6 separate regions of the Homo sapiens genome follow, and regions 1, 2, 4, 5 and 6 are each linked to region 3. Evidence: fine-mapped expression QTL. A gene starts in region 3. Each other region holds a variant in brackets. All regions are shown on one strand. Distances are from middle to middle. Region 1 overlaps FRMD4B (FERM domain containing 4B). Region 2 overlaps FRMD4B (FERM domain containing 4B). Region 3 holds the start of FRMD4B (FERM domain containing 4B). Region 4 overlaps FRMD4B (FERM domain containing 4B). Region 5 overlaps FRMD4B (FERM domain containing 4B). Region 6 has its middle 160 kb from the start of MITF.

Region 1 (4,091 bases), 50 kb after region 3:
GCCTTTATTAGTTTGCTTATGATAATGACCTCCAGCTCCATTCATGTTGTTGCAAAGGACATTTTCTCACTTTTTTATGGCTGCATAATATTCCATGGTGTATATGTGACACATTTTCTTTTTTTATTATACTTTAAGTTTTAGGGTACATGTGCACAACGTGCAGGTTTGTTACATATATATACATGTGCCATGTTGGTGTGCTGCACCCATTAACTCGTCATTTAACATTAGGTATATCTCCTAATGCTATCCCTCCCCCCTCTCCCCACTCACAACAGTCCCCAGAGTGTGATGTTCCCCGTTCTGCATCCATGAGTTGTCATTGTTCAATTCCCACCTATGAATGAGAACACGTGGAGTTTGGTTTTTTGTCCTTGCGATAGTTTGCTCAGAATGATGGTTTCCAGCTTTATCCCTGTCCCTACAAAGGACCTGAACTCATCCTTTTGTATGGCTGCAGAGTATTCCATGGTGTATATGTGCCACATTTTCTTAATCCAGTCTATCATTGTTGGACATTTGGGTTGGTTCCAAGTCTTTGCTATAGTGAATAGTGCTGCAATAAACATACGTGTGCATGTGTCTTTAAAGCAGCATGTTTTATAATCCTTTGGGTATATACCCAGTAATGGGATGGCTGGGTCAAATGGTATTTCTACTGCTAGATCCCTGAGGAATCGCCACACTGTCTTCCACAATGGTTGAACTAGTTTACGGTCCCACCAACAGTGTCAAAGTGTTCCTATTTCTCCACATCCTCTCCAGCACCTGTTGTTTCCTGACTTTTTAATGATTGCCATTTTAACTGGTGTGAGATGGTATCTCACTGTGGTTTTGATTTGCATTTCTCTGATGTCCAGTGATGATGAGCATTCTTTCATGGGTCTTTTGGCTGCATAAGTGACTTCTTTTGAGAAGTGTCTGTTCATATCCTTTGCCCACTTTTTGATGGGGTTGTTTGTTTTTTTCTTGTAAATTTGTTGGAGTTCATTGTAGACTCTGGATATTAGCCCTTTGTCAGATGAGTAGGATGCAAAAATTTTCTCCCATTCTGTAGGTTGCCTGTTCACTCTGATGGTAGTTTCTTTTGCTGTGAAGAAGGTCTTTAGTTTAATTAGACCCCATTTGTCAATTTTGGCTTTTGTTGCCATTGCTTTTGGTGTTTTAGACATGAAGTCCTTGCCCATGCCTATGTCCTGAATGGTATTGTCTAGGTTTTCTTCTAGAGTTTTTATGGTTTTAGGTCTAACATTTAAGTCTTTAATCCATCTTGAATTAATTTTTGTATAAGTTGTAAGGAAGGGATCCAGTTTCAGCTTTCTACATATGGCTAGCCAGTTTTCCCAGCACCATTTATTAAATAGGGAATCCTTTCCCCATTGCTTGTTTTTGTCAGGTTTGTCAAAGATCAGATAGTTGTAGATATGTGGCATTATTTCTGAGAGCTCTGTTCTGTTCCATTTGTCTATATCTCTGTTTTGATACCAGTACCATGCTGTTTTGGTTACTGTAGCCTTGTAGTATAGTTTGAAGTCAGGTAGCGTGGTGCCACATTTTCTTTATCTGTTCTACCATTAATGGACATTTAGGTTGATTTCATGTCTTTGCCACTGTGTTTGTTTGTTTTTGTTTTTTGAGACAGAGTCTCACTCTGATGCCCAGGCTGGAGTGTAGTGGCATGATCTTGGCTCACTGCAACCTCTGCCTCCCAGGTTCAAGCAATTCTCCTGCCTCAGCCTCCAAAGTAGCTGGGATTACAGGCATGCGCCACCATGCCCAGCTAATTTTTTATATTTTTAGTAGAGATAGGGTTTCTCTCCCCAGGCTGGTCTCGAACTCCTGACCTCATGTGATCCACCCGCTTCAGCCTCCCAAAGTGCTGGGATTACAGGC[G/A]TGAGCCACCACACCCAGCCAAGCCATTGTGGGTATTCACTCATTTGATCCTCACAACAACCTTATGAATTTGGTCATCTTTGCATGCCCATTTTACAGATAAGTACCAGTGCAAAAGCCTTTTGGATTATTTCTCATTCTTCCACTTTTGCCTCACCCACTCCAGTTTGGTCTCCTCACAGTAAGCAGACTTATCCTTTATATATAGCCCCAGATTATCTTCTCCATGCCTAAAAGCCTCCATTGGCTTTTTGCTGCATCTGAAACAAACTCCATACTTCTTACTATGGCCTACAATGCAGTGAATGATTCTAGCCCAGTAGTTTCAGACTTTAGCAGGCATGAGAGTGACCTGGAAGGTTGTGAACACACAGATTGCCGGGTGCCACTCTCTATTCCTAACAGGCTCCAGTTGATGCTGCTGTGAGTCCTAAGACCACACTTCAAGAACCACTGATGAGCCCCTCATTAACTCTAAGCTTGTCTCTTGTTCTCTCCCTCTTGGTGACCAACCTCCAACCACATTTGTTGCCTTTTTTTTCTTAAACTGTGCATTCTCCATAGGGTGACTTCACCCCCCAAGGGAAGTTATAATTGGTTCTTGAGGGGTAAAGAAAATCTTAGGTATTACAATAGTTTTCAGCCCTTCAAAACTCAGTTCTTAGCCAGGTGTGGTGGTTCACACCTGTAATCCTAGCACTTTGGGATGCTGAGGTGGGCAGATCACTTGAGGTCAGGAGTTCAAAACCAGCCTGGCCAACATGGTGAAAGCGTGTCTCTACTAAAAATACAAAAATTAGCCGAACATGGTGGCACGCACCTGTAATCCCAGCTACTCAGGAGGCTGAGGCAGGAGAATCACCTGAACTTAGGAGGTAGAGACTGAAGTGAGCTGAGATCGCAGTGTGGGTGACAGAGTGAGACTCTGTCTCAAAAGAAAAAAAAAAAAAAAACTCAGTCCTGCCCAGCAGATAAGATATAAAGTATATCTGTGTTATTAACATTTCATGGGGGAGGAGGGTATTGGGGGAAAAATTGTCTAGAGAGGCTCCTTAAGAGTGCAATTATGGGGCCGGCTGCAGCGGCTCATGCCCATAATCCCAACACTTTGGGAAGCCGAGGTGGGCAGATCACAAGGATGCAAAAATTAGCCAGGCATGGTGGTGCGTGCCTGTAATCCCAGCTACTCGGGAGGCTGAAGCAGGAGAATTGCTTGAACCGGGAGGTGGAGGTTGCAGTGAGCCAAGATCGTGCCACTGCACTCCAGCCTGGGCAACAGATCAAGACTCTGTCTCGGAAAAAAAAAAAAAAAATGCAATAATGAAAAAAAAAAGTTATGCAACAATGTCTTAACCCAAGCATGTTCTGCCTCAGGGCCTTTGCACTTGTTGGCCTCTGTCTGGAATATGCTTTTCTCAGATCTGCCAAGGCTGAATCCTCATCATTGCTATTTCTGGCTAAATGTTGCCTCCTCAAATAGCCGTTTCCTAGCTGCTTTATTTATAGCATTTTAGAGAGTGTCTCACTCTGTCACCCAAGCTGAAGTGCAGTGGCGTGACCATAGCTCATAGCTCAGGGCATAACTCATAGCTCACTGCAGCCTCAAACTCCTGGGCTCAAGCGATCCTTCTGCATCAGCCTCCCAAAGTGCTGGGATTACAGGTATGAACCACTGGCCCAGCCTGCTCTGTCTAAAGTAACAACTCTCCCCATCACATTAGTCTGTATTCTCATTTTCATGGTACTTAACACGACCTGAAATCACCCTGTGTGTTGCTTGATTTGCTTGTTTTCTGGCTTTCTTCTTCGCTGGCAAGTCTTTGAGAGAGGAGCACTTGACTCTCTGGCTTGTGTCACTGTTGAGTCCCCAGAGCCTATTATAAAGTCTGGAACACAATAAGAGCTTGATGAATATTTGTGAATATGTGAATGGATGCTAGTCACACAGTGGATAAAGCAGTGGAGCTAAGATTTGGATTCAGGTGCTCAGACTTCAAATCACCTATTTAGCAACTACTGAAACCCAGGGGTCATTGAGTGGAAGGTACCCAGTAGGAAGAATGCTGTCACAGTTAACTGGGTCTATAGATGACAGTGCTCAACCTCTGAGTTATCCAAAAGGCACAGCAAAGAAGCAAAATGTTTCCCCTAAATTCCCCAGATCATTTAATCCCAGTCCCACTATTGTATTTTTT
Region 2 (4,091 bases), 140 kb after region 3:
TTGTAGGCCAATGACCCCTTTGAAAGCCTGGCCTCTACGATGTTAATGTTCGACTCCTGGTAGACGTTACTCGTAGATTATTTACAGATCACCTAGCACTCATTCCCAGCCAAGTCTTTGAATAATGTGCCCCTTAACGGACTAACAAAATAATGCCTTCCAACCTTGAAAACTTCCAGTTACGGAGTTGTACTTCAGTTCGGAAACTCCCAACACTCTCCTCATCTTCCCATTCGGCTTTGGTAGAATGTTCAAGGATGCCACTTAAAACACCATGATTCCTCACCACAATCTCCCACCAGTTCTGTTTTGTGCTCTCTCTATATATATATATTTGTGTGTGTGTGTGTGTATTTACATTTTTCTAGGTTAAGAAATTTGAAGAAATCATGAAAATCAAACACCAGTTGTTTTTAATGGAAAGAAAGGGGCAGGAGTTTAAAAAAAAAAACAAGAGTATAAGGTAGTTTACAGACCATTAGTATCATTAAAGGCTCACGCCTGAGGCCGGGCATGGTGGCTCACGCCTGTAATCCCAGCACTTTGGGAGGCCGAGGAGGGAGGATCACTTGAGGCCAGGAGTTCCAGACCAGCGTGGCCAACATGGTGAAACCCTGTCTCTACTACAAATATAAAAATTAGCTGGGTGGCCGGGCACGGTGGCTCACGCCTGTAATCCCAGCACTTTGAGAGGCTGAGGCGGGCAGATCACAAGGTCAGGAGATCGAGACCATCTTGACTAACACGGTGAAACCCTGTCTCTATTAAAAATACAAAAAAATTAGCTGGGTGCGGTGGCGGGTGCCTGTAGTCCCAGCTACTTGGGAAGCTGTGGCAGGAGAATGGCGTGAACCCGGGAGGTGGAGCTTGCAGTGAGCCGAGATAGTGCCACTGCAGTCCGGCCTGGGCAAAAGAGCGAGACTCCGTCTCAAAAAAAAGAAAATTAGCTGGGCATGGTGGCAGGCACCTGTAATCCCAGCTACTCAGGAGGCTAAGGCAGGAGAATTGCTTGAACCTGGGAGGCGAAGGTTGCAGTGAGCCAAGATCGCGCCACTGCACTCCAGCCTGGGTGACGGAGTGAGACTCAGAAAAAAGCTGCTGTGTCTCTACTGTTGTCTTCTCCAGAAAAGCCACGTTTCCTGGGAATATCAGATATGCAAGGAACACAGTCATTTATGGGGGTGATTTTTAAAAAACAACCCTGGATAAGAAATCATACGGGAGGTGATTCTAAAGTCAATTTGTAAATGAGGGTTTCAGGGCCCAAAAGCTCACACTCAATGGATTGCTAACCCACCTTCCCCACTTAGCCCCAGTCAAGGCTGTGACTGACACCCTCTGAGCCTCAGTTTCCTCATCGGTAAAATGGTACCTTTCCCATAAAACTGTCATGAGAATCAAATGTATGTAAACGTTGCCCAGGGCAACATCTGGCTTATAGCAAGTAATCTACACCCTTGGGCTATTATTATTAATTTAGTTATTATTATCCTCATTATTACTATCATCCTATCTGGTCTCTTATCTACCTCTGATGAGACTTTTGAGACTAAGGTTGGTCTGAAGAAGCTGTAATAACCTATAGTTATGGGGGAGGTGGAGAATAGAAAAAGAAAGGGTAATTTCACAAACCTTCCTTAGGGAAGATCCCTTGCCTGAGGCAAAGGAAGGCCTAAAAGGGACAGTCCTTCAGTTGTTCAAACATTTGAGCCCTAGGACATCAAGGTTGGCGAGTTAATTCTGGGCAAGCCCAGTCCAGACCTTTGCCTTCACTCGAGCTTGTTCCTGGTGGTTTTCCTGAGTGATCACGAGGTTGAAGTGGCGCACACTGTTTTGAAATTGTCCAAACTACACTAAGTAGTGGAGAGAGCGTGGGACTGGAAATCACGCAGACTGGCAACATCCCTCTGAGTGGCCACTTATCCT[G/T]TCTGAGCCTCGGTTCCCTCATCTGTAAATTGGGGTTAATCAAAACAATGGCTTTGCAGGTTGGTTTTCAGGACATGTGGGAGCATTTTGCAAATTACCATGCTCTCCCTATCTGATCTTCTCCCCTGAATAGAGAGGATATGTTTTTCCTCCAAAGTTTTGTTCTAAAACTCCTCTTTGTTTTTCTTTTGTTTTATTTTGTTTTTGTTTATTTTTGAGATAGAGCATTGTTCTCTCACCCAGGCTGGTGTGCAGTGGCATGATCTTAGTTCACTATAACCTCCACCTCCTGGCTCAATCAGTTCTTTCATCTCAGCCTCCTGAGTGGCTGGGACTACAGGTACACACCATCACACCTGGCTAATTTTTGTATTTTTTGTAGAAACAGGGATTCACCATGTTACCCAGGCTGGTCTCAAATTCCTGGGCCCAGCTGATCTGCCTATGTTGGCCTCCCAAAGCGCCGAGATTACAGGTGCAAGCCATCGCACCCTGCCTTGTTACAAAACTCTTCTGAGAAAATCAGGCGCCGGGTGCCGAGCACAGTGGCTCACGCCTATAATCCCAGCACTTTGGGAGGCCGAGGCAGGTGGATCACCTGAGGTCGGGAATTCGAGACCAGCCTGGCCAACATGGAGAAACCCTGTTTCTACTAAAAATACAAAATTAGCTGGGCATGGTGGCACATGCCTGTAATCCCAGCTACTTGGGAGGCTGAGGAAGGAGAATCTCTTGAACCCAGGAGGCAGAGGTTGTGGTGAGCCGAGATCACACCATTGCACTCCAGCCTGGGCAACAAGAGTGAAACTGTCTCAAAAAAAAAAAAAAAAAAAAAACAAATTAGCCTGGCACGTTCGCAGACGCCTGTAGTCCCAGCTACTTGGAAGGCTGAAGCGAGATAATTGCTTGAACCCAGGAGGTGGAGGTTGCAGTGAGCCAAGGTGGTGCCACTGCACTCCATCCTGGATGACAGAGTGGGACTCTGTCACAAAAAAAAAAAAAAAAAGAAAAGAAAATCAGCCAAGGCCAGGTGCAATGGCTCACTTCTGTAATCCCAGCATTTTAGGAGGCCGAGATAGGCGGATCACTCGAGGCCAGGAGTTTGAGACTAGCCTGGCCAACATGGCAAAACCTTGTCTCTACTAAAAATACAAAAGTTATCTGTGCATGGCAGCACACATCTGTAATAACAGCTCCTGAGGAGGCTGAGACACAAGAATCGCTTGAACCTGGAGGTGGAGGTGGAGGTTTGCACTGAGCTAGAGATCGTTCCACTGCACTCCAGCCTGGGCAACAGAGCAAGACTCTGTCTAAAAACACACACACACACACACACACACACACACACACACAAAGAAAGTCAGGCAAAATAAAATACCATGAGGCAATGTTGTAGTGGTTAGAGCAAAGACTGTGGAACCAGACAGCCTGATTCAAATGCCAGCTTGGCTACTTATTACCTGTGTAATCTTGAACAAATTACTTAAAATCTCCAAGCCTCAGTTTCCTCATCTGTAAAATGGGACTTACAATTATAATACACACTCCATAGGATTGCTGTGAGGATTAAATGAATTAATATTGCATTTGTAAAGTATTTAAAACAGTTCCTGTAATCCATCTTATTTTACCAAATTGATGGACATGATGGACTCCCCTATTGTTACAAATATTACTTGTTTCCCATATAAATAATGGGAAAAAAGATGTTCATCATGGCCTTATTTATATTAGCTTTTTTTCCCCATAAAGCTAATATAAATAATGCTGTGATGAACATCTGTGTGTATTTATTTTTAGTCTTGCTCTGTTATCCAGACTGGAGTGCAGCTCATTGCAACCTCCACCTCCTGGGTTCAAGCAGTTCTCCTGCCTCAGCCTCCCAAGTAACTGGGATTACAGGCACATACAACCATGCCCGGCTAATTTTTGTATTTTTAGTAGAGACAAGTTTTCACCATGTTGTCCAGGCTGGTCTCAGACTCTTGACCTCAGTGATCCGCCCACGTCAGCCTCCCAAAATGCTGGGATTTTTGTTTAAACAGAGTCTCGCTCTGTCGCCCAGGCTGAAGTGCAATGGTGCCATCTTGGCTCACTGCAACCTCCACCTCCTGGGTTCAAGAGATTCTCCTGCTTCAACCTCCCAAGCAGCTGGGACTACAGGC
Region 3 (4,091 bases):
CTGCCTGACATTTCCGAGAACACAGTCGAACTGCATCGTTTAAAAAAAAAAAGTACCACCACCATTTGCTCGTACTAATAGGGCATTTTTGAAGTTCAGTAGTTTTCCATTCAGCATGATGACAGTTCTTTTTCAAGCTAAGTTCATTTTCTTTTGATTCAGTAAAATCTATTATATTCAGATTCATCGTTACCATCATCTTGAAAAAAAAACCATCAATACTAATACTGATGGCACATAGAGAAGACTTATTGTGAAGAAAGGTTTGCAAATCTTGGACCAAGTCTTGTGTCCTATTAACTAATTCAACAAAAACTCTTGGGCAATTTTATTAACGAAAGAAATCTCATTTAAAAGTTTTCTGATTACAGTCACTGAAAACAACAGGCACTTTGAGGACAGATTTTGTGTTCTTCGTCTTTTGACTGATTGAGTTTCACCTGAATTAAGATTATAAAAGCACATTTGATACCTGAAATCAAGCTGATTTACTTGTCGATAATCTGTTCTGGAGTCTTCTGGGCTAGTTCAGGAGAAAAGCTTTGGTGCCTTACCTTTCCTTTTGGTGCCACTTAATAGCATAGATAACAACCCAGATGTGAAACAGCCAAGAAAATACAGACAATTGACTTACAGATGGATTCAGGAAAAAACTCCATCCTGAAATTTGCTACAGCACTTTTGCTATGAGAAATCTTCATACATTCTAAGGGAAAATGGAGGCTGGGCACAATGGGTCATGTCTGTAACGCTAGCACTTTGGGAGGCTGAGGCTGGAAGATTGCTTGAGCCCAGGCATTTGAAACCAGCCTGGGCGACATAGTGAGACCCCATCTCTACAAAAAAAATAATGATAATAAACTTAGCACCTGTAGTCCCCGTGGCTGAGGTGGGAAGATGGATCACTTCATCCCAGGAGTTCAAGGCAGCTGTGAGCTATGATTGAGTCACTGCTCTCCAGCCTGGGCAACAGACCTTGTCTCAAAAATAAATAAAGGAAGACAGAGACTGGTGGTAGGCGAGACTCCTTGAGCTCCCTTTTCCAAATGTTTCCAACAATCAGCATCAATTCCCGAGGGAAAACTTTAATAAATAAATAAATAAGATTAATTATCTAGTGACTTCATGAGTGGTGGAACAGTTTCCTTTGGTTTTGAGGGGAGAATAAACTACCCATGCAGGTTGGTGCTTGCAGGTGAGGTTAGACATGTCCAGAGGCTGAATTTTCCAGAACTAAACCACCGATTCTCTTATGGGCTTCTGTTTCCCAGCACTAGTAACGGCAAGCTATTTACAAGGGACCAAGAACTCTGTTTTTCTCCCTGACTGCTGCATTGGTATTAGCAGCATCTTGGTGTGAGGAAACCTGCCTTCCTGCTGGCAACCACAGGAGGCTGTCATTTTCTCTGAGACCCTCAAGTTAGGAGCAAAGGCAGGTTCTAGGGCCGCCTGTTGCTTTGAGACTGTTGCCTTCATCTCCTGCTTCCAGCAGAACCAAGGAAACATTCGTGGCTATTCCCCCAGGAGTAGGGTCCAAAGGGATGCCTTGGAGATTTTTTTTTTTCTCTCTCTCTCTTCTGCATCTGTGGCTGCCCAGAGGTGTTTTATCAGTGTGAACAGAGCAAGATGAGTAAGGTGTTCCCCGAGGCAGATTAGGAGACCACTCGTCCGGTGTGGGGGGTGTGTGTCTGTGTGTGTGTGTGTTCGCGCGCGCGCAAGACGTGGAAGCCAAGTGTGCTGAAATGCAGCTCCCCTCTCTGCCTGCAAAGAGTTGCTCCGCTTCCGTCCCTGCCCCGCGCCCTGGGGAAGCGCCAGGGGGAGTCCTCGCCGGCCAGGGCTTCCCGTGCCCCGGGAGCATCGAGGGCCAGCTTGGTGGAGCTTAGCACAGCTTGCTCGGCGCTGCGAGCGGGCGGGGGTGGACACTGGGCTTCTGTGTGCCAGTCGCAGCCGTTGGCTGGCGGGCACCCAATCCCAGGGCATGCCGCCGGAGCCTGGCCAGGACGCACGGTGAAAGACGAGTTTGGTGGCAGGCTTGACCCCCCGGCTGCCAGCAGAAGCCGGCGTCGGGAGCCCAGGCGGGCAGGCCGCTGGGGTCGGGGCTGCACGTACGAGAGCCGGGACGCCCGGGTTCAGAGCGAAGGAGGAGGCATGGCTTCGGTGTTCATGTGTGGCGTGGAGGACCTGCTGTTCAGCGGCAGCCGCTTCGTATGGAACTTGACCGTGTCCACGCTGCGGAGATGGTACACGGAGAGGCTGCGGGCTTGCCACCAGGTGCTGCGGACGTGGTGCGGGCTGCAGGACGTGTACCAGGTGAGCTGGAGCGCGCGGCACCCGAGGGCCCCAGCAGGATGCCGGGCACTCGTGGGAAGCAGGCTCCACCTGTATGATTTTATTCCCCCCAGCTCTTCTTAAACTCCTAGCAGACTGCTTGGCCCTTGGGTCAAACGCTCAGCAGCTCTAGGTAATTATTGCTTGACAGAGCTTGTGAATTTTTCAAATCGGGCATGGGGGGCACTTGCGAGATAGTCCCAGCGTTTGCAGACATCTGTTACAGAGCAATGGTGTACTGGCGGGCGCTTGACTAGGGAGGCTGTTGCTTTGCAACAGAGGGTCTTCAGAAAGCCACTTAGACATTCAAATGAGTCCTTCTTTTTAATTTCATTGGGGGTGGGAGTGGCTGCTTCTGAAGCAACGGTTTCACACCAATTTGCTGGCAGAGGGGGCCTTGGTGGATTTTTATCCTTCCGTTGGATTTTCAGTTTTCCATCAGGCAGCCCCAACTTGTAAGGCAGAGCCAGGAAAAGCTGATTCTGTGTCTACTGGCTTTTGGAAGGAAGGACAGCAAATTGTGAACACTTTGCAGGAGGATGACAGGCTGGGGAAGGGAGGGGTGGCCCGGCTACACGTTGGAATGCTCATGTTAGGATTTACTCCCTGTCACACAACACAGCCCCTTTATTTCTCTGCTCGGTCCCATCCTGCAGGCAAAAAATGCAGCAACTTTGCTCAACTAGGAGACCATTCATCCTCTCTGGTACTGCAGTTTGCCTGGATTTCTTTTTTTTTTTTTAGACAGTAATTTATGAATTTAAAAGTTCTGTGCTTTGGTTGTTAATATATTTGAGATTTTTAAAAATCTGCATTGTTTAGAAATATACTTGGTGTCTACTGTGGAAAGATAATATCATATTTTCTTTCCTGTGATGTGGAATAGCTTTGTTGCAGTTCCTGGATTTCCCCCCATTTGACCCTGTTCCTAATATGTCTAGAATTTATGTCTTATTATATTGTGTCTCATACATGATCAAGCACTTGATTTTGACAAACCATAATCTTCCATCAATCAGGCAAAATGAAAAGGCCAGCACCTAAGGTTAGCCTGTGGAAGTCTAAAGAGTCAGCGTCCCCTTGTCACCCTTGTTAAAATATGAGGAACATTTGAACTTGTGCTTTCACTGCTTCTGCTTTGTATAACATATCTGTGATATCTTGCATTTTGAAATGGAATCTGAAAGGCAGGTTGGGAACCAGGGCAGCATGTGGGAGTTTGAGAGTATTAGGGAATTGTGGATATATCCCATCTGGCCACATTACATAGCTCTCTGGCTTTTTGGAGCCAGAAGTGTGTCTGTCTTTCAAGCCTTTTTTTTCCTCTCTTGGGAAATCCCTGTTCAGTTTGGTCTGTAGAATAAGTGCCCCTTATGTAATTTTGTTTTTCCTTTTTAGTGTTTGAGAAACTTTCAAAAAGGGAACGCAAATATTGTAGCCAACCAGAGTGACTCTGTGCCTCACTCCCCAAGGATTCAGAGGATTTATGGCTTATCTGTAATACTGTTACTGACCAATTCAAAAATAAAGATTCCAGAAACCTGAGACCTTATGGATTCTTTATAAGGTTGACTGATAATTTTTATGCAGAATAGCAATTTGAGACACTGAGCTACTAAAATATATGTATTTTTTTCTTTTCTCTAAAATGGATGGTGACTGAGCCAATACCATATCATAATTGATAAGAACATCTAAAATAATGGTGGTAGTCAGGCAGTGTGCTGTGTGTCTATAATCCCAGCTACTCAGAAGGCTGAGGC
Region 4 (4,091 bases), 34 kb after region 3:
GAGAGTCTTAGAGATTTAATCTTATGGTTATATTCTTAACCATACCATACTCCTGAGCAAAATTCCAGACTGTTCTTTTTTTCAGGAGGGAGAAGCATGATACCCTGTCACAAACTTTTACTTAGTCATTCTCTTTTTTTAAAAAAAGTAAATTTATTATTTTTCCAGTATTCTATATGTTTTTCTCTCTGCCTTCAAGCATAATGTATTTTGATTATTTCCTATTCACTGAATGACTTCAATAGTAATGATTTCATTAAATGCAAATAGTGAAATGAATCTTTTCTGAGACCACGTCATTCTGCCAAGATTTTCTGTTGTGGCTGGCATCTCTGATTGATTTTACTAAGGTTGTTCCATGGAATTCTAAGTTTCTTTCTGAGTGGAAAAGCTGTTAACATCAACTGGCTGTGAGTAGCAAAGTTGAGTTAAATATTGTTTTTATTTATATTCATTAAATTCCCAGCCTCATCCAGAACATGCATAGAAGTTTAGATTCATACATGGCATCGCCTATCTCTGAATAATTACCCAACCTAAAGCTTGCATTATCAAGGAAGTTTAGAAAACAGTAGATGACATTTCATCATATGTTTTAAATGTGTTGTAAAGAAAGCGTTTGAGTGGCCAAAAGAAATAGCAGAAGTTTTTTAGTTGTTTTTATTTTCCCATTTCTCCCGTGACTCATATTGAAAGGCTTTTGTTTCTAATCAAAGAAACAAACAGTATGGTCATTTCCTTGAGATTATATGGCAGCGGAAGGCGTCGGGAGTTTTTAAGTTCCTACTTCCACTGGCTTGTAGTTGGAGAAAATGCAAGCACATGCGCGCACACACACGCGCGCGCACACACACACACACCGCACAAGTGCTTAATACGTGTGTCTTTTGTCTTAAGCACTCTCTTCAGTTCCTTTAAATGAGCCGAGGTCATGGTGGTTCGGAGGTAAGAATGATTTTTTTTTATGATCTTCCAGTTGCAGACTGTGTAACGGTGCTTCTTCAGCTTTGACTGGCATTTCATAGCAAAATCTTGGGCAGATTTTAATATTGTACTGGGGGTGGACTAATCTAAGAACTAATATTGCAGAACCCAACTTGCAGAAAAGGAAATTACAAGAAATGTTTATCTTCACTCTTGTGAAGGAATTACTTTTTCCAAAACGGAGTTGGATGTGCTCTGTTTGATACCAAGTGAAGATGGTCCTTAAAGACGCCCATCGTCTGGAGGGTTTTCCTGTCATTGTTTTAATGCTATCTTTGCTCCTTTAAAGGTCGTGAAAGGCTGATTTCTTATTTTGCTTTAGAACTTTGGCAAATATGAAGTATGTAATTCCACTTCATCACCCTTTCCCCTGCTCCCACCACTCTCCTTTTTTCTTCTTCTTTTTTTTTTTAAATTTTAAATACTGGAGTTTCTTTATGGATGTAGAAAAGACAGAGAGAGGGCAGGAACTGTGTCAGTAAGCAACACAGAAATGCTTTTTGATTTATAATTGTTCATCGTTTCATCAGCAAGATGTGTTTGGGGCCTTCCCTGTTTTTGTGAACACTTGGCAACAAAAATTCCGTGGTGTCCTAGAGCTCATTAGCAGCCCATCTGAAAGGATCCTTTGATGTGGGTCCCTGCTTTGCCTCCAGAAAGAAGAAGGAAAATTGAATTTTGTCCTCCAGTCTAGTTTGTGGTGAGGATTCTATGTGATCAGAATTCAGCAGTTCAAGATAGAAACCTCGGAAATGCCATTTTTGGGGACGGCTTCCAATTAATTAATAAAACTTTTATGATTTGTCAGAGGAAGTCCTACATCCTTATTAAAGGGAAGGTTTTTTTTCTTTGCTGCCTTGTAATGTGGTTATGGCAAACTCATTAAGTCCAACTCCATGTGGCCATTTTTCTTCCTTGATGGGTAGATGTTGATGGTGGAGGGGAGGAATATCTGGGTAAAAAACAAAGGAAATTATCTCATCCAGTAGACTGCAAAACTCCTGGGGATAGAAGGAAGTCTGTAGAGGAAGTGGGCAGGATTGGGTAGAGAAGAGAAACATCAAAGAAATTAAATATATCACAATAGGAACTGGAATAGTACCCTTTTGCTATAATGTAACAACATAATAGTGTAGCCTTAGAAATGAGTCCATTGTCTCTAAATCGGTCCTATCTAAAGGTATCTAATGTCCGAAGGAGTGAAAAGGAATATAATCTTATCCAAATGCAGTCCTGTGACCTGGATTCTCAGAGTGACATTATGGTGACCTAAGGCCTCATTATAAATGATCCTGTTCTGAAGATTCAGGCCATAGAACATCCTGAGAAGTAAGACTATCTTGTTATGCAGCTCTTTCAGGGGTCAGAAACTACAGCTCTTAGCAGAGGGCCTAATATATTCCCAGATATACCAAGTCCCACTCCAGAGCATACTCTGTGTGTTCCACTGTGTTTGATCCTACATTTGAAGTATGCAGGGAAGTTGTTACTACTAGAATGGAGGTTGCTGCAGACAGGTACTATGTCTCAC[C/G]CATGGAGAGAATTCCCAGTAACTATCAGGAGGCAGGGTGATGGGTGGTGGACAAATATTATTGGCTGAGCAGAATTGTTAGATATATTTATGCCATGGAACATTTAAACCAGAAGAAACCTTGTAAGTCACTTTGTCCAATCTCCTCATTCTGTTACTGAAGAGATTAAAATCCAGAGAAGAGGAGGAATTTTTCTAAGACTTCCTATCCCGTTAGGGGCAGGGCACAGCCTGGATTCTGGATCTCCTGAGTTCCGAATCTATGCTCTGTCCACCCTTTGCCTTTTCTGGGCCAGAGGATGATTTTGCCTAATTTCCAGCATCTCTGAATTTCATGAAGCAAGAGTTTCTTTACATGGGTGCGTGCATCTTGGAATAGAAAAGTGGGAGCTGCATCCAAATGAGATTCTGCTTTCTGTTCTGCATGGTTTCCAATTGCTAGCAGAAGCCTGTGCACAGGTGTGCAAAAGACCCCAGGAAAAGAACTACATGTCTTGTCTCTTATCACAAAAAGCTATAGTGCTAGGTAAAACCATACTAAAACACTTTCTCTTTGTTTCAAAAATATTTTGGCAACCTGAAAATACTAGTGAGCTCTCAGCAGAGGCCTGTCTCGGGATCATAATTCAAGTATGAGACTTACGTTTGTCCCTGAGGTAGATTCTGTGAAGCTCCAATTAAGACTTTTTTCTTGCTTAATGTTGGAAAACTAGAAAAAATTTTAAATGCAATATTTTCCTAAACTGGAAAAGTAAGCCTGAGTACAGGTAAACTATACATTAATATATGTTTATGTGATTTGGCAAGGTTAAACAATCAATTTATTATTCCAATAACAGCAATCTAAGAAAGGAAGGTATTGGGCTTGCTGTATACTTCAGTTGCTTTTTTTTTCCTTAAAGGAAGCTTTTGTAGATCAGGCTGTAAAGGTATGCACACTTCTGTTGTCTTGTATTGGTTTATTTTCTCATTTGGTTTTCTTTTTTTATTATTATTATACTTTAAGTTCTAGAGTACATGTGCACAATGTGCAGGTTTGTTACATATGTATACATGTGCCATGTTGCTGTGCTGCACCCATTAACTCATCATTTACATTAGGTATATCTCCTAATGCTATCCCTCCCCCCTCCCCCCTCCCCACACCCCAAGGCAGGCCCCAGCGTGTGCTGTTCCCCTTCCTGTGTCCAAGTGTTCTCATTGTTCAATTCCCACCTGTGAGTGAGAACATGCAGTGTTTGGTTATTTGTCCTTGCGATAGTTTGCTGAGAATGATAGTTTCCAGCACCATCCATGTCCCTACAAAGGACATGAACTCATTCTTCTTTATGGCTGCACAGTATTCCATGGTGTATATGTGCCACATTTTCTTAATCCAGTCTATCACTGTTGGACATTTGGATTGGTTCCAAGTCTTTGCTATTGTGAATAGTGTCACAGTAAACATACATGTTCATGTGTCTTTAAAGCAGCATGATTTATAATCCTTTGGGTATATACGCAGTAATGGGATGGCTGGGTCAAATGGTATTTCTACTGCTAGATCCCTGAGGAATCGCCACACTGTCTTCCACAA
Region 5 (4,091 bases), 190 kb after region 3:
CATTGCAGAGAAGTGCTTATTGTATAGACTATTAAAAATAATCTTTTAAGATTCTTTGAACATAATTTTAAAATCCAGCCGAAGTCTAATAATATAATGAAACTCTCTGCTGTTATTTCCCTAATCAAGTCTGGGGGCAGAGAAGAGGAATTTGACCATGAAGTCCAAGTTGACAGGACAAACCAAGGCTCAGGATAGTACAATGTCTTATAAAGAGCTTAGGAAGCAGCCCAGAAAACATAGCAAGGCATCCTCAATTCTGTGAATGAGCTGCTTTCTATCAAATTATTTGGTTTTCAAATGCACATTGCTAGTAAAGTTTGTTCCTCCCAATCAAACTGACGGCACTGAGTGCCGCAATAGAGTATCAGTAGTGTGTATATCAGAGTGTACAGACACTGGGAGCTAGCTATGTTCAAAAACTGGAGGTTCTAGCTCAGAAACCAAGAAGAGGCTCTGGTGTTCCCTCCTACCCCTTCTCTGCCCCCAATTACTGGTGCTAGGTTTCTGTGGCATTTAGGGGAACTCTTCATAGGTAGGAAAGTGGTATCTCAGAGAATCACCCCTGCATGGGGGTTCCGTTTTACTTTCACTTTGTATTCTTTTGAAATTCAATCTCTGATGTTATTGAAATATCCCTTTGAATATCTTTCCATTTAACTATGAAATCAACATCTTTGAGAAGGCTGGTGCTTACTGGAATCTGTGCAGATTTCCTTATTATATAGTTGAGTCAGAGGAAAAATAGTGTACATGTTCTTCCACAGATGGTTGGTTTTATTGTTCAAGGAAGATTTATTGGTGATGTGAATCTTGTTTTTTTTGAGACGGAGTCTCGCTCTGTCGCCCAGGCTGGAGTGCAGTGGCGCGATCTGGGCTCACTGCAACCTCCGCCTCCCGGGTGCACGCCATTCTCCTGCCTCAGCCTCCCGAGTAGCTGGGACTACAGGCACCCACCAGCACGCCCGGCTAATTTTTTTTGTATTTTTAGTAGAGACAAGGTTTCACCGTGTTAGCGAGGATGGTCTCGATCTCCTGACCTCGTGATCCACCTGCCTCGGCCTCCCAAAGTGCTGTGATTACAGGCGTGAGCCACCGCGCCCGGCCGAGGTGAATCTTAATAGTTAAAGATTGCTGCCAGAAGAAGGAATAAAATGGTTTCAGGTCATAGTTGATTTGTAAAAAGGCTGAATCACATATTCATGTTTCATCGTATCAGTGTACCTTCTTGGAGCTTATAATTGTTTGATTATTAAGCTGATTTATAGAATTAGTAAAAATAAGCATAAATAATACTTCCTGGCTTTTCTGTTTTCTTTAGTTATTCCAATGGAAACAGCTGGAGAACTTATATTTCCGTGAGAAAAAATTTGCTGTTGAAGTTCATGATCCACGAAGGTGAGGATCAAAGACGTTTCTCTGTATGACACAGTTACTATACAAATAACGCTGCTATCAACATTTGTGTACAAGTTTTTATATGAACATATGTTTTCATTTCTCTTGGGTGTATACCTAGGAATGGAATTGCTGGGTCAAATGGTAACTATCTTTAACCCTCTGAGGAATGGCAAGGCTGCTTTTCAAAGTGCTGCACCATTTTACATCCCAAGCAGCAGTATATGTGGTTCCAATGCCGACACATCCTCACCGACACTTGTTATTTTTAGTTTTGTGTGCATGTATAGTTTATGCCATCCTAGTGGGTTGAAGTGGTACCTTCTTGTGGTTTTGATTTGCACTTCCCTCATGACTAATGATGGCTGAGCATCTTTTCATGTGCTGCTTAGCTATTCCTATATCTTTAGTAGAGAAATGTCTATTCAGATCTTTTGCTCATTTAAAATGTTGGTGTTCTTGGTCATTTAAAAAAAAAAAAAAAAGCCAAATTACCAACATGAACTGAAGTCAGGATGTGGGTTCTCAAATATCTTAGGAGAAATCCCGCCCCCCTCCGCCCGCCCCCAACTGCCAGACAGAGTCTTACTCTGTCACCCAGACTGCAGTGCAGTGGCGCAATCTTTGCTCACTGCAACCTACACCTCCCAGGTTCAGGTGATGCTCATGCCTCAACCTCCCAAGTAGCTGGGAGTACAGGCATGCACCACCACGCCAAGCTAATTTTGTATTTTTAGTAGAGACGGGCTTTCACCATGTTGGCCAGGCTGGTCTCAAACTCCTGACCTCAGGTGATCCGCCCGTCTCCGCCTCCCAAAGTGCTGAGCCATGGCACCCGGCCTTAAGAGAAATTCTTAATCAGTCCTTAGTGGGTACTTTTCAGTCCCGAGATGGTTATGGATGTTTAGAGGCCAGAGGGATGGGAGGAAATACCTGTGATAAAAA[G/T]GTGACCTGAAGAGATAAGCCAAATTCCTACAAAGAACATTAGTACCACGTCACACACACACAGTCTGTCTGCCTCTTGCCTGTTCTCTCTTTCTTTCTCTCTGTCTCTCTCTCTTTCACTTCCCCTCCCTCCCTTCTCCCCGCTCCCCCTCTCCCCTCTCCCTCCTCCTCTCTCCTCCCCCGTCCCCTTTCCTCTTTCCATCTGGTGTACAAGCAGCACTCTGGACAGTTTTGGACTTGCATATTTTCAGCCATTATCGTTAAGTGCATTCTCTGATAATGTCAGAGCCGGCCAAATCTACCTAGATCTGAAATGCTCTTTTACCTTGAATTAGGTGCTCACCCCACACTTGGTTGCTGTTTCTTTAAAATCTTATCCCATTTATTCCTTACCACTTGTGATGGCTACACATCCTTAGAGTTTCTAACTAAATGTTTTTGTATAATCTCTAATTTGACTGATTCTTTATCAGCTTTTGAGTTCATGTGTATGTGTTTTTAAACATGCTGTTTATCCAGAAAGAGATTACTTAGGTCTGAATTGTTTTGTTGTAAAAGGAGAAAATCAGAAACTTGGTCCCCATTTGCGTAAGAGTTTTTGCAACAGAAGACAGGTAAGAGGAACATGCTTTGTTACAATGCTGCTCGCAGGGTACATTTTGCATCATGCTGGGCCAGAGGGGAATTATTTGAGTGCTTTCTTTAATCTTTCAGGATTTCAGTTTCAAGAAGAACCTTTGGGCAAAGTGGCTTGTTTGTGCAAACATGGTATGCTAACTCTTCTCTCATCAAGTCCATTTGGGTAATGGCAATTAGTCAGCATCAGTTTTACTTGGACCGGAAGCAAAGCAAAGTAAGTAACTGGCATCATTTCTATAGGGACAGATTCCCCTTTTGCATTCTGTTCAGAAGATAAGCCTTCTCACAAAAGATGCAAGCACATATATTTTTGCTCTCTGAGATTTTTTTGCGTTTAACTTCCAACTATTTCAGGTTTTTTATATGTTTACATGATGGGCAATATATAAGCTGCTTTAAAAGTTGTAAGACTGGCCAACTTTTTGGCATGCACGTTTGTATATACTGGTGACACTGCTGGCGGTGATGTTGCCGGTGACACTTCAAAGTTAGTAACTGAACCACACCATGAGAAAATCACGTATAGTTATTAAAACATTTTAACTACTTGTGGGGTTTTTGTTTTGTTTTGTTTTTTGGTCTGAAGAATGCCACTTGAATATGTGAAAATTCTAAATTATCCTCTGTGTTGCTATTTTTATTGTATGTTAACTTAATTGTTTCATTAATTTGAAGTATGTTTGAGTTAATTCTGTTTCATTGTTGTATGCCTCTTAGGCAAAAATTCCTTCAGCCAGGAGTTTAGATGAGATTGCAATGGATTTGACAGAGACAGGAACACAAAGGGCCTCCAAGCTGGTGACACTGGAGACGAAAAGTCAGTTCATCATGGCAAGTAATGGCAGTTTAATCTCCTCAGGTAACATCTTGGGATTAGAGAACGTGCAAGCCATCTTTATTTCGTTTGTTTTTTCGGTCATAAACCACTTCGAAATTCATCTTTTAATCCATTATTTTGGGAATAAATAAGTATGTCAATAAGTATGTATGCGACAGCTTTGAATAAAATTTTAAGGCTAATTTTTTAAAGAATATGTAGAAAGTCAAATTATAAATAGGTTGTGCATGTCATATGAGATGCAAGGATGGTGAGTACCAAGGTGTGGCTT
Region 6 (4,091 bases), 190 kb before region 3:
GCAAAAATCCTCAGTAAAATACTGGCAAACCAAATCCAGCAGAACATCAAGAAGCTTATCCACCGTGATCAAGTGGGCTTCATCCCTGGGATGCAAGGCTGGTTCAATATATGCAAATCAATAAACATAATCCAGCATATAAACAGAACCAAAGACAAAAACCACATGATTATCTCAATAGATGCAGAAAAGGCCTTTGACAAAATTCAACAACCCTTCATGCTAAAAACTCTCTATAAATTAGGTATTGATGGGACATATCTCAAAATAATAAGAGCTATCTATGACAAACCCACAGCCAATATCATACTGAATGGGCAAAAACTGGAAGCATTCCCTTTGACAACTGGCACAAGACAGGGATGCCCTCTCTCACCACTCCTATTCAACATAGTGTTGGAAGTTCTGGCCAGAGAAATCAGGCAGGAGAAGGAAATAAAGGGTATTCAATTAGGAAAAGAGGAAGTCAAATTGTCCCTGTTTGCAGACGACATGATTGTATATCTAGAAAACCCCATCGTCTCAGCCCAAAATCTCCTTAAGCTGATAAGCAACTTCAGCAAAGTCTCAGGATACAAAATCAATGTACAAAAATCACAAGCATTCTTACACAACAATAACAGACAGACAGCCAAATCATGAGTGAACTCCCATTCACAATTGCCTCAAAGAGAATAAAATATCTAGGAATCCAACTTACAAGGGACGTGAAGGACCTCTTCAAGGAGAACTACAAACCACTGCTCAGTGAAATAAAAGAGGATACAAAGAAATGGAAGAACATTCCATGCTCATGGGTAGGAAGAATCAATATCGTGAAAATGGCCATACTGCCCAAGGTAATTTATAGATTCAAAGCCATCCCCATCAAGCTACCAATGACTTTCTTCACAGAATTGGAAAAAACTACTTTAAAGTTCATATGGAACCAAAAAAGATCCCGCATTGCCAAGTCAATCCTAAGCCAAAAGAACACAGCTGGAGGCATCATGCTACCTGACTTCAAACTATACTACAAGGCTACAGTAACCAAAACAGCATGGTACTGGTACCAAAACAGAGATATAGACCAATGGAACAGAACAGAGCCCTCAGAAATAATATCACACATCTAAAACCATCTGATCTTTGACAAACCTGACAAAAACAAGAAATGAGGAAAGGATTCCCTATTTAATAAATGGTGCTGGGAAAACTGGCTAGCCATATGTAGAAAGCTGAAACTGGATCTCTTCCTTACACTTTATACAAAAATTAATTCAAGATGGATTAAAGACTTATATGTTAGACCTAAAACCATAAAAACCCTAGAAGAAAACCTAGGCAATACCATTCAGGACATAGGCATGAGCAAGGACTTCATGTCTAAAACACCAAAAGCAATGGCAACAGAAGCCAAAATTGACAAATGGGATCTAATTAAACTAAAGAGCTTCTGCACAGCAAAAGAAACTACCATCAGAGTGAACAGGCAACCTACAGAATGGGAGAAAATTTTTGCGATCTACTCATCTGACAAAGGGCTAATAACCAGAATCTATAAAGAACTCAAACAAATTTACAAGAAACAAACAAACAACCCCATCAAAAAGTGGGCAAAGGATATGAACAGACACTTCTGAAAAGAGGACATTTATGCAGCCAACAGACACATGAAAAAATGCTCATCATCACTGGCCATCAGAGAAATGCAAATCAAAACCACTATGAGATATCATCTCACACCAGTTAGAATGGCGATCGTTAAAGTCAGGAAACAACAGGTGCTGGAGAGGATGTGGAGAAATAGGAACACTTTTACACTGTTGGTGGGAATGTAAACTAGTTCAACCATTGTGGAAGACAGTGTGGCGATTCCTCAAGGATCTAGAACTAGAAATACCATTTGACCCAGCCATCCTATTATTGGGTATATACCCAAAGGATTATAAATCATGCTCCTATAAAGACACATGCACACGTATGTTTATTGCGGCACTATTCACAATAGCAAAGACTTGGAACCAACTCAAATGTCCATCAATGATAGACTGGATTAAGAAAATGTGGCACATATACACCATGGAATACTATGCAGCCATAAAGAAGGATGGGTTCATGTCCTTTGTAGGGACATGGATGAAGCTGGAAACCATCACTCTCAGCAAACTATCACAAGGACAAAAAACCAAACACCGCATGTTCTCACTCATAGGTGGGAATTGAACAATGAGAACACTTGGACACAGGAAGGGGAACATCACACACTGTGGCCTGTTGTGGGGTGGGGGGAGGGGGGAGGGATAGCATTAGGAGATATACCTAATGTAAATGATGAGTTAATGGGTGCAGCACACCAACATGGCACATGTATACATATGTAACAAACCTGAACGTTGTGCACATGTACCCTAGAACTTAAAGTATAATAATAATAATAATAATAATAATAATA[ATAAAAG/G]AACATACTCTTGTTGCCAGGTATGGTGGCTCAGGCCTGTAATCCCAGCTACTTGGCAGGCTGAGGTGGGAGGACTGTTCAAGGCCAGGAGCTGAAACCTAGGAAAGGTGTTCAAGCAAAAATGAATTGACAAATGTCCACAATGAAGCCCTATTAAGAAATGTACAGTTTGCTGTGGTAGAAAACTTCATGGTCCTAGAGAGTAGCTATTAGCCAGCCACATGTGTCTATTTACATTTAAATTAAATTAAAAATTCAGTTCCTCAGTCTCAGTAATATATTTCAAGTACTCAATTGCTACATGTGGCTATCAGCTAATGTATCAGACAGCATAATTATACATTTCTATCATTGCAGCAAGTGCTTTTGGATAGTGCTGATACAGAAAGTTGAGTCTGATCTTGTTCTGAACGAATTGGCATGGTAGAACTAGGGCTGTACAGTGCAGTGAGACGAGTACTGTTGAGTGAGACTCTGGTTTCCAGTGACAACGCCACTTCTTTGTGGCATTCGGCAGCTCTTTTAGCCTTTTTAGGACTTGATTTTCACATCTATCAAACAAGGTCACAGTAATCGTAATGGAAGAAGTCCCTTCAGGCAGCCCCCAAACAAGACTCCCATAATTGGCCTTCTCCTGCCACTTATATTGGGTAAATTATTGGATCACGGGGTGATGTAGTGATGAGCAAGGAGTGAGGGGCTGTATTTCCACCTACCGGTGAACCCTTGAGGATTGTAACCTCTGCTATAACCCCTTTCTCTTACAGGCAGGTACCTTCTTGTCCCATTTCCCCTGCAGATCCAAATTCACTATTCACACTAAGTGTGAGGGCATTTCCAGACTAGCAGTTCAGTATAGGCAAGGATTATTACCAGCCACAATGGCACATTGTACAGTTAACTTGGTGCAGATTTCAGGCCTCAGTGTCGTTTGCCTTCTGTTTCACTCCCTTTCTCAAAACTAGGTGCCTGCAGCCTCTAGCTCTGCTTTTTCTTGCTAATTCACCTGACCCTCTTTACAAGGCTAAGGTCTTCTCTTCCTTACCCACTTTTTCCAGTTCTGGAGGTTCAAGGTTTGTTTCTTTCTGCGTATCAGTTAGCAACAAGACTCTAGGTAAAACAAGAACCAGTTCTTTCAGCTCTAACTCTACAAGTGATCCTGAATCCCTCTTCTCTCTATCTTCACTGCTACCTGCAAGCCATCCTTGCCTCTCACTGGGTCAACTGCCAGTTTCCTCAGTGATTAATGAATTCAATAAAATCTTTAACAAGTGCTTTCTTTAAATATTTGTATGAGCATCAGGATTTTACCCTTTTTTGAAAATTATATGTTAATAATACAATTTAGTCATTGATTAAATCCATCCCCCACAGCAGTTTGATCTTCACCCAGCAGCCAAAGTGGACCTTGTCCAATGGGTGAAGAAGAGGGTGCCTCTCTTTGGCTTTAAAGTCCTCCTATGGTTTCCTGGAAACTTCAAACAAAATTGAAAGTTCTTAAGGGGGTCTGGAGCCCATGTAGGATCTGGGCCCTAACTACATCTATCTCATCTCCTATTATTATCCTTCTCAATCAGATTGGAGGGAATAATTTGTGCTTCCATGAGCACTATACAATATCTAGACTCTAGAAGACATTCATAGAATCTGA

The links. PIP is the estimated chance that this variant, and not a neighbour inherited with it, causes the effect. A credible set is the group of variants that fine-mapping cannot tell apart.
Region 1: its variant is the best candidate, but not a certain one, in a credible set for the expression of FRMD4B in whole blood (INTERVAL, PIP 0.68).
Region 2: its variant is the best candidate, but not a certain one, in a credible set for the expression of FRMD4B in CD4 T cells (BLUEPRINT, PIP 0.59).
Region 4: its variant is the best candidate, but not a certain one, in a credible set for the expression of FRMD4B in monocytes (TOPMed, PIP 0.60).
Region 5: its variant is the best candidate, but not a certain one, in a credible set for the expression of FRMD4B in whole blood (INTERVAL, PIP 0.75).
Region 6: its variant is the best candidate, but not a certain one, in a credible set for the expression of FRMD4B in monocytes after Pam3CSK4 (Quach 2016, PIP 0.55).

Annotation. Positions count from the first base shown.
Region 1 is chr3:69,334,491-69,338,581 of GRCh38, reverse strand. The region is part of intron 1 of FRMD4B (FERM domain containing 4B); the gene reads left to right. Among named protein-coding and RNA genes, the nearest start is that of FRMD4B, 50 kb to the left of the region's middle. The variant G/A (reference allele first, on the strand shown) is at 1,897.
Region 2 is chr3:69,244,506-69,248,596 of GRCh38, reverse strand. All of the region lies in intron 7 of FRMD4B (FERM domain containing 4B), which reads left to right. Among named protein-coding and RNA genes, the nearest start is that of LMOD3, 120 kb to the right of the region's middle. The variant G/T (reference allele first, on the strand shown) is at 1,927.
Region 3 is chr3:69,384,047-69,388,137 of GRCh38, reverse strand. FRMD4B (FERM domain containing 4B) reads left to right here and starts at 2,050. Exons shown (of 23, transcript NM_015123.3): 1 at 2,050-2,310. The coding sequence starts at 2,149. RefSeq lists an enhancer at 1,973-2,583.
Region 4 is chr3:69,350,398-69,354,488 of GRCh38, reverse strand. The region is part of intron 1 of FRMD4B (FERM domain containing 4B); the gene reads left to right. Among named protein-coding and RNA genes, the nearest start is that of FRMD4B, 34 kb to the left of the region's middle. The variant C/G (reference allele first, on the strand shown) is at 2,516.
Region 5 is chr3:69,196,005-69,200,095 of GRCh38, reverse strand. It overlaps FRMD4B (FERM domain containing 4B), which reads left to right. Exons shown (of 23, transcript NM_015123.3): 12 at 1,322-1,398; 13 at 3,058-3,196; 14 at 3,700-3,841. Among named protein-coding and RNA genes, the nearest start is that of LMOD3, 75 kb to the right of the region's middle. The variant G/T (reference allele first, on the strand shown) is at 2,344.
Region 6 is chr3:69,572,687-69,576,777 of GRCh38, reverse strand. No RefSeq gene overlaps it. Among named protein-coding and RNA genes, the nearest start is that of MITF, 160 kb to the left of the region's middle. The variant ATAAAAG/G (reference allele first, on the strand shown) is at 2,435.